Linked DNA regions of Homo sapiens: region 1 is linked to region 2. A link means that fine-mapping ties the variant in region 2 to the expression of a gene that starts in the linked region. Tissue or cell type: lung. Region 2 holds a variant in brackets; the other region holds the start of a gene. All regions are shown on one strand. Distances are between the middles of the regions.

Evidence for each region. PIP is the estimated chance that this variant, and not a neighbour inherited with it, causes the effect.
Region 1: DKK3 starts here. The variant in region 2 is fine-mapped to the expression of DKK3 in lung (TOPMed, PIP above 0.99).

The regions. Positions count from the first base shown.
Region 1 is chr11:12,007,147-12,009,752 of GRCh38, forward strand. DKK3 (dickkopf Wnt signaling pathway inhibitor 3) reads right to left here and starts at 1,480. Exons shown (of 7, transcript NM_001018057.2): 1 at 1,224-1,480. The coding sequence starts at 1,436. RefSeq lists an enhancer at 1-667.
Region 2 is chr11:11,965,257-11,968,012 of GRCh38, forward strand. It overlaps DKK3 (dickkopf Wnt signaling pathway inhibitor 3), which reads right to left. Exons shown (of 7, transcript NM_001018057.2): 5 at 1,698-1,842; 6 at 553-709. Among named protein-coding and RNA genes, the nearest start is that of DKK3, 42 kb to the right of the region's middle. RefSeq lists a silencer at 1,717-1,766 and an enhancer at 2,609-2,756. The variant G/A (reference allele first, on the strand shown) is at 1,639.

The DNA of each region.
Region 1 (2,606 bases), 42 kb after region 2:
AACTGTTGTGGAGTGGGAGGGGAAATAGCCCCAAACTACAAAGGGCTGCGGGGAGAAAGCAACTTCCCCCTGGAGACAAGGGCCAGCAGTTAAGGCTTTGCCCAAGGGGGATACCAAGCTGGAGACAGCAGGGATGTGAAGCCAGACCAGGGGCCAACCAGCCTGGACATTGGTTTCCTGCTGCCTCCTTCACTAGGACGGCTGGCTCCTCTCTATAGACACAGGCTACAGACAGATTGGGCCCAACAGCGCCCTCGTCTACCCACCCCAGGCACCAGGGACAGCTCCCCGCACCTGGACAGAGAGGGCTGGGCCAGTGACATCTCCTGCCCAGGTAGCCCTGGGCATGCGTGGGTGACCATCACAGAGGACAGAACAAGATGCCACCCACAGTGTTTAGACCTGGAGGTGATGGAGGGCAGAAGCTAGGCAAAGCTTTGCTAAGGTACGTGGTATCTGATAATAGTTGCTAAATACTGCGCACCTATTATTTGCCAGGTGCCCACACATATGACATTTAGTTTTCACAGGAAACTGAGGTGCAGGATATTAAGTGATTTGCCCAATGTCACCCTGCTACTGAGTGGCAGAGGAGGACCTGAGCCCAGGACAACTGCGAAGCACCGTTGGGTGGAGGGGGTATTGCCTCTCACATCCTCATCCGCCACTCATACAGTGCTGAGATTTAGGATTTCCATCTTCCCTCTCTGCCCCCACATTGCGTGAGAAGCAAGACAGCCCAGACAGACTGCCAGCAAAGCTCAGGGCTCTTTGCCTCTTTGTCCCTGCATGGCATCCTAACAAGCTCAAAGCATAACGGACAAGCTAGAACTTGGCGATGCCTGGAGCTTGTCCCGGGTTTCTGTGAAACCACAGTGCTGGAATACCAGGGGCCCTGCAAACCTCTGCTGACAATAGGGAAGGCCAACGGCATGCCTGACGCCAACTGCAGGCAGGTGGTGGCCCCAGCTACCTAGGGAGGGTCCAGTGCAGAGCCTCTCGGTGGACAGGCTCAGATCCAGACTTTTTGGCAAGGAGGCAAAACGAGGCGGGAGTAGGGATCACCGTGCGCTGCCTCCAGGTCACTCCGCATCTGCTGTCGGCCCTTCCCAGGCCCTGCGCGGGACCCGAGGTCCCTGGCCAGCGCTCTTCCATGCCTTCCCAGACTTCGCTGCCCCCAGTCTGGCGCTTCTCAGAGCCCCGCGCCGCCAGGGCGCACCCACCTCTTCCACCGCGCTGCGCAATTTGTGCTGCGTGTCCTCCATCAGTTCCTCAACCTCGCGGAACATCTCATTGAGGGTGGCCTCCTCCTGCGGGTAGCTGAGAGCCGGGCCGGGCTTGACTGGAGCCGAGGTCGCCGTCGGAGCGGGCGCGGGGGCCGTGGGGACCGCCGCCGCCAGCAGCAGGCACAGCAGGGTGGCCCCAAGCCGCTGCATCTCCGCTCTGCGCCCGCAGCCGCCGCCTGTGTGTCCCGGAACGCGATCAGAGGCGCGCGGACCACCCCCCTCGCTGGGCCCGCCGCCCCGCCCCGTTCCGCCCCGCCGCCCGCCCCTGGCGCCCCTCTTTCCCGCACCCGCCCGGAGACGGGAGGAAACCGAGGCCCCTGAAAACGCAGCTCCCCTACACCCGAAAAGACGCGACCCCACCCGCTCCAGCCCGAGCCCCGATCGCCCCAGGACCCCGCACCCCCATCCTCGAGCACAAGCTGAGCTCTGCTCCTCACCTGTGATGCTGGAGCCCTCGCCAGAGCAACCGAACCCGGATCCTCTACGCTAATAGCTCCCAAGCCCCAGCTCACCTAGACTCTGTCCCCGGTTCAAACCCTAGCCCCTCCTCGACCAGGTCAGAGTGCCCGACCCCCACTTCCACCTCAAGCCTCTCTCAGCCCCTACCTGGGGTGGACCAAGCACAGGTCAGCCCCCTCCCCTTGGCGTCGGGTCCTACTCGAGCGCCCCGCCCCACATCCACCAAGAGAGGCTGAGCTCAGCAGAGTCGTCCCCTCCCCCGCCGCCGCCCCTCACCCACCCCGACTGGACCGAGTTGCGCTGCGGGCCGGACTGGATCTGCTCGCTCCCGCCGGGAGGCCGCCGGGCTGCGGGTGCAGATGCGGGAGCGGCGCGGTGGGCGGGCCGCGGGTGCGGGAGCGCGGCGGGGTGCGGCAGCGCCGGTACCCGAGGGAGCCCGCAAGACGCGCCCCGCCCGCCCACCAGGCTCCCTCTCCGCCCCCGCCCCGAGCCCCGCCCGCCCACCAGGCCCACCCCGCCCCGCGGAGGGGCCGCAGCCCGGCCATTGGCCAGCCGGGGCGCCGGCCACCTCACGCCCCACGCCCCACGCCCTCCTCTTCTGCCTCAGCGACCAGCTCTACCGAAGGCAGCCATCTCCTTCACTGCCTGCCCCTGCGCCCGCGGCATCCCAGGCCCGTCTTCTCTGGCCTCCAGGCTTGCAACAGCCCACCGAGGTTGGGGGTAGGGGGAATGTTCCTCAGTCCCACCTTGGTCTTTCCAAGCCAACCTCTGTCCTGTGAAATCCTCAGGAAAAATCCCAGCCCCCAGCCTGGCATTCAAGCCATCACCGCTGGCCTTAGTCTGCCGTGATTGACACCGTGC
Region 2 (2,756 bases):
TGGGGAATGGGAGTTCTGCCTGTCTGCCCAGCAGCCCTGGATTCTGTTGGGAGAGAAGACTGAGTAGAGGCTGCGGGGAGGACAGGGAGATGTGCCCTGAGAAGCTGGCCAGGCTTGAGCCTCATGCCTCATGGAGTCTCAGCAGCCTCAGACAGTGTGGGCTGCACCCTCCACCTTGGTGGCCACTCCTGGCCTCCCCGTGGCCTCTCTGCCAGCTCCTTTTTCTCTGCTTATCTGTCATTGTGACAGGTCTGGGGAGGGAGCCCAGGCTTTTCTCCCTCCATGTCCTCTCCATGGACCATCCACTCATGAAGCTTCAGCCACCAGCTAGATGAGCCCCAGATCTGTGCCTCCTGGGCAGCCTGGGCTCCAGACCCCTAGAACCGACTGCTGATTGGACCCTTCCATCTGCATGACCCAACGACCTCTCAAACCAATCCTAAAGGGAATCTACACCTCCCCCAGGGAAAACCTGCTCCTGCTCCTACGCCCCTGCTGGATGGCACCTCCTCAGCCCTTGGCTCCCTGAGAGTGAGGGTTAGGGGGCCTCACCTGTGGGGCTGGCAGAGGAGGCCACTGGCACAAGGGCATCGGTCCAAGGCTCCATCAGGCTCTAGCTCCCAGGTGATGAGGTCCAGAAGCCGGCTGGCGGGGTCATGGCAAAGCTCGCCCTCCACGGGCAGGGGTGTGCACACAGGGAACAGCAGGCCTGGAACCAGCCCAGAGTCACCCCTGTGTGCCCCGTGTAGGGTAGAAGGGCTCCAAAGGGAGGGGCAAAGAAATGGAGCATAACCTCCCACCTCCCACCCTCAACCCCAAAGTGCAGGCTAGTTTTGAAGATACGGAATGACAGGAAACAAGAATAGCAGCCTGGGCTCAGGAGGGAATGATTGGTAGGGCTGAAGCAGGGAGGACTGCCTGGAAGAGGTGGGCTTCTGCTGGATTTTGAGGGCCAGAAAGTCTGGAGAAATTAAGAGGGAGGCAAAGGCATTCAGGCACAGGGACAGCACCAGCAAAGGCCTGGGGTTGAGCTCAGTGGAAAATGTCAGGGCCGGTGAAATTCCCAAATAGGCCAAGAAGTAGTGGAGAGAAAAGGAGGGCAAGTAAGTTGGAGCTGCATGAGGCCTCACAAGACAGCCTAAGGAGTCTGAACATCGTGGGAGACAACAGGAGCTGCTGCAGGTCCCAGGGGAGCAACACCCAAAAAGCAGCCCTTTAGGAAGATCACGGAGGCGGCAGGTACAGGGAGGACTAGTGGGCTGGGGATGCAGAGCTGGGGAGGCGGCAAATGAGAATTTTTCAAAACCCTAGTGGGGGCGGAGAGAGCCTGAGCAGACCTCACCTGGGAGAGGCAGGACGGAAGATGGGAGTGGAAGCGGGTGATTCACAGGTAGAGGAACCTGGGAAATAAGGAGTGGTGGGAGGGAGGGGGCTGCTAGTCCCACCCCATTCCAGACTGGGCTTTTGCATCCTGAAGTCATTTAACTTTTCTGAGCATCAACAGGGGAAAAAAAAGAGGTGGTCTTCCCACTCCGGGCAGAGGCTGTGGGAGTGCAGCACACACTGATGAGCATTTGGGAGCCTATCCAAGAGGTGGGACGCGAAACCATGTGGTTGGCATGGACGTGGCTCCAGGAG[G/A]TCCAGTGTGGTGGAGCTTGGGACAGGGTTTTTCCTGCATCTGAGGGGAGGCCACTCACCTCTCTGGAAGGCACAGCACAGCCCCGGCTGGCAGTCCCTCTGGTTGTCACAGATGGTCCCATTGCTGCCCCTGGTGGCCATTTTGGTGCAGTGACCCCAGACACACAGCTGGTCTCCACAGCACTCACTGTCCCGGGTGCAGAGCTGCAGACAGGTGGAAAGAGCCTAGAGCCAGCGGCTTAGGGACTGGGGGCCTGCTGAGAGCCCAGCCTGAAGATACCACAGATAGGCCAACCTGCATCCTCCCATTGTAGAGACAGGCAGACCAGGCTGAGATTTCAGTGAAAGTCAGTGGGACAGAGGTGGGAGCTTGGCTGGCGAGACATGGGGGTCAGAACGCTGGAAAAATGGCACCGGGAGGACTCATGGATCTGAGTCTTTCTCCACAGCTTAAGATTTTGCAAAGAACAGCAGGGGGTCTTTGTGGTCCCCACAGACTTGTGCTGTTCCCTTTTTCCTTAGGTCCCTAGGTCCAGGCCCAAAGAGGCAAGGCCCAATGATGAGCCGATTAAACTAAGGCCCAAGCCAGCCCAAGATGAGGATGGCCTGTGGGTGCCAGGGTCCTGCAGCCACACAGGGCATGGCAGTTAGAGAGCAAAGTGAGGTCCCCACGGCTGTGCCCAGTGACGGTACCGAGTGGGGTTGGCTGCGAGGTGCAACAGCAGTGGCCTCACCACAGACAGTCGGGTAAGGTAATAAGAACTGCTTGACTTTCCAAGCTTATTAGCATGCTGTGTTATTGTCTGAATAAGGAAAAATGACTATGAAAAGTCTGTGAGTCCATGTGGCTTCGTCCAAAATGCCTGTTGGGTGAAGAGTCTCCTTTGCCCTGGCTCCACATTTCCCAATCTAACCTGCACTGGGGCAGTGCCCTGGCCTCTTCTTGCCCTGTCCCTCTGCCCTCTCTTATTGGCAGATTGGAGAAAGATCTGGTGGGTGGGGTGCAGGTCCAGAAGGAGAGCAGCTGCCGCTCTCCCTGCCTGGGGGCTGCCGGAATGTCTCTGTTTGTCTATTAGGATGGGTCATCCCCAGGGGAAGCAACAGGTGTAGGGACACCT